Regions from separate parts of the Homo sapiens genome. Here region 1 is linked to region 2. Evidence: fine-mapped expression QTL. Tissue or cell type: whole blood. Region 2 holds a variant in brackets; the other region holds the start of a gene. All regions are shown on one strand. Distances are from middle to middle.

Region 1 (5,222 bases), 52 kb before region 2:
TTAAAGAAAAAGATTGTTTTCCTTTTTTGATCCATAATGTCATTAGTCTCATTGATTTCAGTTTTCTGTCTTAACATTATGACTGTAATTTCTTTTTTTTTTTTTGAGACGGGGTCTCGCTCTTGCCCAGGCTGGAGTGCAGTGGCGGGATCTCGGCTCACTGCAAGCTCCGCCTTCCAGGTTCACGCCATTCTCCTGCCTCAGCCTCCTGAGTAGCTGGGACTGCAGGCACCCGCTACCACGCCCGGCTACTTTTTTTGTATTTTTAGTAGAGACAGGGTTTCACCATGTTAGTCAGGATGGTCTGGATCTCCTGATCTCGTGATCCGCCCGCCTCGGCATCACAAAGTGCTGGGATTACAGGCGTGAGCCACCACGCCCGGCCTATGACTGTAATTTCTTGTGTATCATTAGGTTTCAAGAAAAAGGATCTTGAAACCTTTTCTTGGGATCACGACTGTAATCCCAGCACTTTTGGAGGCCGAGATGGGCAGATCATCTGAGGTTGGGAGTTCGAGATCAGCCTAACCAACATGGAGAAACCCCGTCTCTACAAAAATACAAAATTGCTGGGTGTGGTGGCGCATGCCTGTAATCCCAGCGACTCAGGAGGCTGAGGCAGAAGAATCGCTTGAACCCGGGAGGCGGAGGCTGTGGTGAGCTGAGATTGTGCCATTGCACTCCAGCCTGGGCAACAAGAGTGAAACTCCGTCTAAAAAAAAAAAAAAAAAAAAGAAAGAAAAAGGATCTGGGCATTCTCAGTACCTTTTCTGATCTTTATCTTCAGGAAAGCCATCTCTATATAGTTGAGCAAATAAATACTGGGCTGAGTATCTGATGAACTGCACTCTGCATAGGTTGCATACTGAGAATGAACTTGGGCAGTTTATCTTTTCTGGGCTTTGGTTTCCTCATCTCTAAAATGAGAGGGCGTGTTAGTTCTAGACCATCATCCCAAGGGTCCATTTTAGCTTTAGCGTGCATCACTGTAAAACCTGTTAACAAATATTTGTTGAGATAAGGAATTCTGGTGTATAGCCAACATTGTGGGAATATTTGTGGATACCTAAATAGTGGTTTATCCTCTGGGGAAAGCAGTTCCTACAGCTACTAAATACTAACAAGGCCTATGGCTAAAATCAGGTAGCACCTTGTGATGTAATTCAAACCACTAGGACATGTGGCATGCAAGACTACATCAGGCTACTTGAGGTATTTATTAGGTAACAATTTTTTTTTTTTTTTGAGACGGAGTCTCACTCTGTTGCCCAGGCTGGAGTGTAGTGGCGCAATCTCGGCTCACTGCAACTTTCGCCTCCAGGGTTCAAGCGATTCTCCTGCCTCAGCCTCCCGAGTAGCTGGGATTACAGGCGCCTGCCACCATGCCTGGCTAATTTTTGTATTTTTAGTAGAGACGGGGTTTCACTATGTTGGCTACACTGGTCTCGAACTCCTGAGCTCAGGCAATCTACCCGCCTCGGCCTCCCAAAGTGCTGGGATTATAGGCGTGAGCCACCGCGCCCGGCCTAGGTAACGATTTTTGCGCGCTAAACGGTTCTTAGTAACCTGCAGAGTGAAAGCAGAGTACCTAAATATCATACTGTATACGTTAAAAACAGGGGAGAAAGGAAAAAAGGTGTTAAAGTTTACAGCAAAATGAGAAACAAATGAGGAAAACAAGTGAAAGCTTCTCCCGCAACTGAAACTCAACCTCTACATTTTACCTAGGTAAAATGGTAAAATTGCCCACAGGGCTCAGGTGTTTGGATGCACTGTCCAGGCCAAGAGGAAAGATTTTCAGCCAGTCTCCAAAACATCTCAGGGACGGGTATGGAAAACAGGCGTAAAGTGTCTGTATTGATCAAATCAACCCCAGAGAAACTTTCCTAGGGCCAGAGAGCATCTCAACCGCGAAAGTCCGTTTGCGGCCTCCTTCTCCACTTCAGGCCTGCAAAGCGGCTGACGGCATTCGCAGTGGCTAGGCAACGGCCCGCGCAGACTTCTCGGCGTTAGCCCCGCCTCTTGAGGCGCTTCCGCCGCCGGGCTCCTGGACACGCCTCCTTTAATTGGCTAACGTCACGCTGGGAGTGGGCGGGGAAAATATGTCAGACTGTGCGGTCACTTCCGGCCCGGGAGCGCGCGGGTTGATTCGTCCTTCCTCAGCCGCGGGTGATCGTAGCTCGGAAATGGCGGGTAAGTTACCGGGAAAAGTTTACCAAGGGGAGGAGGCGGCCAGATCGGGGATAGAACGCCGAGACGGTGGTGACAATGCCCGCCTAGAACTTTCGGGCTGTAGCCTGGGTTCCAGAAGGCCTGCTTGGGACCGGAAGCGCGGAACTCTCAGCCCAGCAGCTCCTTGTTGGCGGCGGTCCGCGCCCCCGCCCCCAACTGCTTGGGGTTCTGCGCCTTCTGCCAGCAATCCGGCCCCTACCGAGGGCCGAAGACGCCAGGGAAAAGCGTCATGATTTGGGCTCGTAAAATGCCACATGCCTTGGGGCCTGTTTCTCTTCCCATTCCTTTTGTCCACTGCTGCTTGCTTCAGCTCTTGTACATCTGGTCCTGTTCCCGCCAGCTGATTTTAATGCTCAGATCCTCCTCCTCTTCCAGGTCTCCGTCTACCTTCCACTACAGTCAACTTCTGAGCTAGCGCATTGCTGCCTTGCCCTGCTCTGGCGCTCCCACTTGGATCTCGACTGACTTCGTAGTCGTCTCGTTAATCTGTCACACTTTAGTATTCCGAGGATCGTATTTAGATGCCCTTTGAGAAAGACTTTGTTCCTGAACTGCTCCCTTCTCTTTTAGGGTTGGACTACTATAATACAATTCTCTTGTGTACATTCTAGAGACCCTTCAAGTTACAACATTTAATAATGTATAATTGCTATTACTTTGTACGTGTATTAAGGCTGTTTTGGTGTGATTATTTTTTTCGATTACTTATCTTTTGAAGTTATGGACAGTTTCTTTTTCCTGAGACAGGGTCTCTCTGTCGCCCAGGCTGGAGTGCAGCGATCATAGTTCCGGGCAGCTTCCAACTCCTCGTAGGCTCAAGCGATCCTCTTGCCTCAGCCTCCCGAGTAGCTAGGACTACAGGCATGCGCCACAACATTCGGCTAAAAAAAAACAATTTTTTTTAACCTTTTAGAGACAGAGTCTGGCTGTATTGCCTCAGGCCGGTCTGGAACTCTTGGCCTCAAGCCATCCTCTCGCCTCAGCTTCCCAAAGTGTTGGAATGACAGGATTGAGCCACTTCGCTGGCCTTTGTTGCTTTTATCATCTCTTTACAGGGCATTCCTCATAGTCTCTCTACATTAACCATTCCATTTTTATGAATATGTGGGATAGACAAGCTGTTGTGTGAGCTCTACAGATGTTTAAAGAAGGACTTTTCTACCAGATGGAGATTGTAGGATCTTGAAGTACCACAGAAGAGGGAGGACGTACTCTAAGAATTACATCTAAATTCGAATTTTGGGCCCATCATTTAGTAGTTGGATGCCCTTCAACTAAACCTCTTTCTAAGCCTGAACTTTTGAATGTAAAATGGGGTTGATGTAATACCTACTTATAGAATTGTGCAGATTGAGCTAATATATGATTTCACAGGTTAAATTTTGTTGCTTACATTCCTCGAAGTAAATTCTGTAATCTCGGTTCTGTAGATTAGGGTCAGAGGGGTTAAGTAATGTGCTCTAGTTCCCTGAGCTTACTAGCTCAGTAAGTGTGTGAAATAGTCAGAATCCAGGAATTCTCACTCCAGACTATTAATCTGTACTGCTTCAAGTCTTTCCCATTTTCTGTGTGTGTGTTTTAACCCCTTTTTGAAGTTTATAGCACATCATTGTACCCCTTTTTATTTTTTGCTTATGGCTTTTTTCTGTCTGAATTTTTACTGATTTTTTTTTTTTTTGGAGACTGAGTCTCGCTCTGTCACCAGGCTGGAGTGCAGTGGCGCGATCTCGGCAACCTTTGCCTTCTGGATTCAAGCAATTCTGCCTCAGCCTCCGGAGTAGCTAGGACTACAGTCACGCGCCACCACGTCCAGCTAATTTTTGTATTTTTAGTGGAGATGGGGTTTCACCATGTTGGCCAGGATGATATCCGTCTCGACCTCGCGATCCCCCTGCCTCGGCCTCCCAAAGTGCTGAAATTACAGGCGTGAGCCACCGCGCCCAGCCCATTTTTACTAATCATATGCCCATTTTGTCAGGAGATTTGTTATCTTGAAAGTTTCTCTTGATAGTGATATCTTCCAATGTTATTTATTATGTATATTATTGAGTAGCCACTATGTAGTAAAACTATTGTGCCAGTAGCTCACAGTTTATGACTTTAGGCATACATGATTTTTAAATATTTAATACAGTGGAAAGATGTTTTCTTTGTGCCCCTGTTCCTCTTCCTTCTTTCTTTACCCATGGTAACTATGGTTACCAGATATTTGTGTATTCTTCTTGAGACATTCCATGCATTATCATTTCCTTATCTGAAGCACTCTGGTAGACTTTTTCCAATACTTAAAATGAAATTCTGTCATAATTATCAGAGGACATTCTCATTTTGCTTTTTACATCTTATAATGAAAAAGACGACTTAGGTATAAATCCTAGCAGGTAATTTGTATTAGTACATGTTCAGAAATGTTAGTAATCTATCATGTTAATTTTCAGGTTTATTCATTTATATTAAGTATTCCTAGTTTATAAGCCTGTATCTCAAAAGTGATTTCTTTTTCTGTTTTGTAATGAGGCATTCTTTTTTTTTTTTTTTTTTTTTGAGATGGAGTCTTGCTCTGTCGCCCAGGCTAGAGGGCAGTGGCATGATCTCGGCTCACTGCACCCTCTGCCTCCTGGGTTCAAGAGATTCTCCTGCCTCAGCCTCCCAAGTAGCTGGGATTACAGGCGCCCGTCACCGTGCCCGGCTAATTTTTGTATTTTTAGTAGAGACGGGTTTCACCATCTTGGCGAGGCTGACCTCGAACTCCTGACCTTGTGATCCACCCACCTCAGCCTCCCAGAGTGCTGGGATTACAGGCGTGAGCCACCGTGCCCAGCTGGCATTCTTAATACATTTATTTAAGAGTATGTGGAGAATGACTTGTGCTTTTATGATCTATCAGCATGTTTTAAATCATACCCCTATTCCACTTATAATAACCCTATTGCAGGTTTGACAATTTAAGTCACTTCCAAACTAAACCTTTTAAAAACCTTTTCTCTTAG
Region 2 (5,222 bases):
CCCTACTTTCTAAGGCACTCCTCCCAGGCCCCCGACCAGAATCCTGAACTCTTAAAGATAGTTTTTAAGAAAACATTTAAACGGTTACATATGAAATGCTATCTGCATCTTTCCAGGGTTTTTCTTTTGTTTTTTTTTTTTGTTTGTTTGTTTTTGTTGTTTTTTTTTTTGTTTTTTGGTGAGGTAGGGGTAGTGTTTGAGACAGGGTGTTGCTCTGTCACCCAGGCTGGAGTGCAGTGGAGTGATAGCTTATTGCGCCTTGAACTCCTGGGGTTAAGCAAAACTCCTGCCTCAGACTCCCAAGTAGCTGGAACTACAGGCACATGCCACCATACTTGGCTAATTTTTAAAGTATTTTCTGTAGAGATGGGGTCTCACTATGTTGCCCAGGCTGGTCTTGAACTCCAGGGCTCCAGCTGTCCTCCTGCCTTGGCCTCCCAAAGCAAGGGATCACAGGTGTGAGCAGCTGCACCTGGCCTGGCACACACAAAGTTATAGCAGGTGCCCTGCCCCAACCCCCACAGGCAGCAAGCTGTGGGGTCTCCTAGCTGTAAAGGGCTGCTGCAGTGGCGACAGCACAGAGTGGGCAAGGCACAGCAGAGGTTTTGGCAGCATGGCCCAGTTCCTGGTATCTGCTCCTATATAGTCCATGCTTACTTCTTCAGGGAGAGTGACTGCATTCACTTTCCTGACAAACATGAATCATCTTTTGCTTTCCTCTCTTTCTTCCTCTTGGCTTTCTCCTGCTATTTCCAGATAATCACCTGCTCTGTCTCCCCAGCTAAATGCAATTTCATGTAATGCTCTTTTGCTTTCTCTTCTCAATGTCTTCTTTTCTTGAAATCTCCTTTGGCCTGCCCAGATTCAGTTGTGTGACCTTTCTGGTTATCTATGGCATCCAATTGGGGTTCTTCATGTCAATGAGCTGTTCTGTGCCTTTGTACTTTTGTTGGCAGTCAGTCATCTTCATTCTCAGGCAATCTCTTGCCTGATGCTAGAGATTTCTTCTTTTTTGGGGTCACTTGCAGCCTCCATTCTCCACTCTCTTCTTGTGTCTTCTCTGGCCTTCTGCTTTTCAACTTGGAGCTGTGCGTTGATCTGCTTGGGGAATATTGTACTGCCTTGCTTAGCCTTTGTGGCCTCCCTTTCTCCTTCCTTTAGGCACAGAGGCTCTGGCAAAGCAGCACCTCAACCACATATGAGTCTTGAAATCAGAAGTGAAAGTCCTCCAATTTTGTTCTTTTTCAAAATTATTTTGTTTATAATGTCCCTTGTATTTCCATAAAAATTTTAGCATAAGCTCACCAATTTCTGCAAAAAAAAAAAAAAAAAGTCTCTTGGGTCTTGATAGGGATTGAGGGATTACATTGAATCTGTCATTAATTTGAAGAAAATTCCCATCTTAACAATTCAGAATCCTCTAATCCAGGAGTCTCAAAATCCCGGGCTACGGACTGGTACTGGTCCAGAGCCTATTAGGACTGGGTCACACAGCAGGAGGTAAATGATGGGTGAACAAGCATTACTGCCTGAGCTCTACCTCCTGTCGGATCAGTGGTGGCATTAGATTCTCATAGGAGCACAAACCCTATTGTGAACTGCACATGTGAAGGATGTAGGTCGAATCTAACTAACGCCTGATGACTGATCTGAGGTAGAACAGTTTCATCTGGAAACCATCCCTTGTCTGTTCCCCTCATCCCCAGGGAAATATTGCCTCCCACAAAATCCCTGGTGCTAGATATTTTTGGCACTTCTGGTACCAAAAAGGTTGGGGATCACTGCTCTAATCCATTAATATGAAATGTCTTGGGCCAGGCTTGGTGGCTTGCACCTGTAATCCCAGCACATTGGGAGGCCACAGCAGGTGGATCGCTTGAGCCCAGGAGTTCGAGAGCAGCCTAGGCAATGTGATGAAATCCCATCTCTACAAAAATACAAAATTTAGCCAGGCATGGTGGCAAGCACCCGTGGGCCCAGCTACTCAGGAGGCTGAGGTGGGAGGATCACTGGAGCCCAGGAGGTTGAGGCTGCCGTGAGCCAAGATCGTACACTGCACTGCAGCCTGGGTGAGTGAGACCCTGTCTCAAAAAAAAAAAAAAAAAAAGAAAAAAAGAAAAAGAAAAAAAAAAAAAGAAATATCTCCATTTAGTTAGATCTTTTAAAACTTTTCTCAACAATGTTGTTTTCAGTATACAAGTTTTGCACTACTTTTGTTAACTTCATTTGTAAATATTTTTGATGCTGTTGGAAATGGGATTATTTTCTTAATTTCTTAATTTTGTTTTTGGATCATTGATTGTTTTAGTATGTAGAAATACAGTTGGGTTTTATATATTGATCTTCTATCCTGCAC[T/C]CTTACTGAACTTGTTTATTAGTTGCAGTAGTTTTTTGGTTAGAATTTTCCACATACAGGATCACATTGTCTGTAAATAAAGACATTTTTACCTCTTCCTTTGCAGTCAGATGCATTTTCTTTCTTTTTCTTACCCGATTGCTTAGCTGAGAACTCCAATATAATGGTGACTGGCAATGGTGAAAGCAGACATCTATGCCTTGCTCCCAGTTTTAGAGGGAAAGCATTTGGTCTTTCACCATTGTGGATGATGTTAGCTATAGCTTTCATATGTGTTAATTATGAAATTGAGGCAGTTCCCTTCTATTTCTAGATAGTTGATTATTGAGCGTTTTTATCATGAATTGATGTTGGATTTTGTCAAACGCTTTGTTCTGCATGTATTGAATTTTTCTCATTTATTTTGTTAACATGGTATATTACATTAATTGATTTTTTTTGGATGTTAAACCAACTTTGCATTTCTGATATAAATCCCATTTAGTTCTGGTATGTAATTCATTTTATATATTGCCAGATTTGGTTTGCTAATATTTGTTGAGGACATTTGTATCTACATTCATGAGGGATATTGATTTGTAGTTTTTGTCTTAGATCCTTAGTGTCAGCATAACTCTGGCCTCATAGAATGAGTTGGAAAGTGTTTCCTCTATTTTCTTTCTTTTTTTTTTTTTTTTAATGGAGATGGAGTCTCACTCTGTTGCCCAGGCAGGAGTGCAGTGGTACCACCTTGGCTCACTGCAACCTCTGCCTCCCAGGTTCAAGCGATTCTTCTGCCTCAGCCTCCCAAGTAGCTGGGACTACAGGCCTGCGCCACCACTCATGGCTAATTTTTATATTTTTAGTAGAGATGGAGTTTCACCATGTTGGCCAGGCTGGTCTCAAACTCCTGACCTCAGGTGATCCGCCCGCCTCAGCCTTCCAAAGTGCTGGGATTACAGGTGTGAGCCACTGTGCCTGGCCTGTTTCCTCTATTTTCTAGAATAGTTTGTGAAGGATCATCGTTATGTCTTCTTCAGGTTGTTTCATGGAATTTACCAGTAAAGCCATCTGGTTGTAGACTTGTCTTTGTGGGAAGATTTTTAGTTGGTAATTAAATGTCTCTGTTATAGTCAGTTCACATAGTCATTTACTTTTTGAGTCATTTTGGTAATTTCTTTCTAAAAGCTGTCTGTTTCATCTAAATTGTCTCATTTGTTGGCATAAAGTTCATGGCATATTCCCTTTTAATTCTTGTGATTTTTGTAAAGTTGGTAGGAATATCCCTTCTTTCATGCCTGATTTTGGTAAATGTTGTTTTCTCTCTTTTTTTTCAGTCATTCTAACTAAAAGTTTGTCAATTCATCGATCATTTCAAAGAACCAACTTTGTGTTTATGTGAACTTGTCTATTTTTGTTTTCTTTTTCATTGATTTCTACTCTATTATTATTATTGCTTCTTATTACTTTGGGTTTAATTTGCCCTTCCTTATCTAGTTAAGAGTGACTCTTAGGTTATATTGATTTGATGTCTTTTTTCTTTTCTTCTTTTAGACAGAGTCTCGCTCTGTCACCCAGGCTGGAGTGCAGTGGTAGAACCTCCACCTCCCAGGCTCAAGCGATTCTCAGGCCTCAGCCTCCTGAGCAGCCTAGCATATATGTTGAGATTGCAAAAGATGAAGAAATTATATTGAGTATCAGGGAAATGTTAATATTATTCTGCTTTATTTATTTAGCGGAAGATCCATCCAAAAGCTATGTGAAATTACGAGACTTTGTGCTTGTGAAGCTTTGTCAAGATTTGCCCTGTTTTTCCCGGGAAAAATTAATGCAAGGATTCAATGAAGATATGGTGATAGAGGCACAACAGAAGTTCAAAATAAATAAGGTATTTTTATTCTGTAGGAGGAAAACAGATTTAAATTACAAACAAATTTTTGAAGTGTATACCTTAACTAAAATATTATAAAGACATTAAGAATACATGTGTGGGAACTAGCAATGGTTAACAGTACAGCTTTGAAGCCAAATTGCCTGAGTTCAAATCTAGCTCCAACACTTGCTCTGTGATTTATGGCAATTTAATTTACCTCGTGCCTCAGTTTCCTCATTAATAAAATGGGAAGATAATAGGTGTTATTGCTATATTAAGCATAACAAGCAGAGGAAAGATGGATAATAGGATCTTATTTTTACTCTTTAAAGTAGTTGTACCCCTGGAGACATTATTGGTGGGAAGAATGGTTGAAGTAAAACACGTATTTCATTTTATATACTTTTATATATTTATTTAAATTTTAAAGTGGTAAATGTCTTAAGATAGGTACAGAAAAAATAAATATGGAAGTTCAGAGAAGAAAGTTTATTACATTTATGTAAGCAAGGAAATCAGTGGTTATTTCATAGAAAGGATGGCATTTGATATAAACCTTGAAGAATGAGTAGGATTTGGATTATGAAAGTATGTGAGATGGGCTGGGAGTGGTGGCTCACGCCTGTAATCCCAGCACTTTGGGAGGCCGAGGCGGACAGATCATGAGGTCAGGACATTGACACCATCCTGGCTAACATGGTGAAACCCCACCTCTACTAAAAATACAAAAAAGCTGGTCATGGTGGCATGCGCCTGTAGTCCCAGCTACTCGGTAGGCTGAGGCAGGAGAATTGCTTGAACCTGGGGAGGCGGAGGTTGCAGTGAGCTGAGATGGTGCCACTGCACTCCAGCCTGGGCGACCGAGCGAGACTCCATCTCAAAAAAAAAAGAAATTTGTGTAGGCCGGGCGAGGTGGCTCACGCCTGTAATCCCAGCACTTTGGGTGGATCACGAGGTCAGGAGTTCGAGACCAGCCTGTCCAATATGGTGAAACCATGTCTCTACTACAAATAC

Evidence for each region. PIP is the estimated chance that this variant, and not a neighbour inherited with it, causes the effect.
Region 1: it holds the start of HAT1, and the variant in region 2 is fine-mapped to the expression of HAT1 in whole blood (INTERVAL, PIP above 0.99).

The regions. Positions count from the first base shown.
Region 1 is chr2:171,920,315-171,925,536 of GRCh38, forward strand. HAT1 (histone acetyltransferase 1) reads left to right here and starts at 2,147. Exons shown (of 11, transcript NM_003642.4): 1 at 2,147-2,193. The coding sequence starts at 2,187. It overlaps LOC105373740 (a long non-coding RNA gene), which reads right to left and starts at 2,075. Exons shown (of 3, transcript XR_923579.2): 1 at 1,725-2,075; 2 at 766-917. RefSeq lists enhancers at 1,583-2,231, 2,372-2,421.
Region 2 is chr2:171,972,086-171,977,307 of GRCh38, forward strand. It overlaps HAT1 (histone acetyltransferase 1), which reads left to right. Exons shown (of 11, transcript NM_003642.4): 9 at 4,072-4,223. It overlaps LOC124905590 (a long non-coding RNA gene), which reads right to left. Exons shown (of 3, transcript XR_007087296.1): 3 at 4,607-5,222. It also overlaps the pseudogene LOC100420002. Among named protein-coding and RNA genes, the nearest start is that of METAP1D, 25 kb to the right of the region's middle. The variant T/C (reference allele first, on the strand shown) is at 2,357.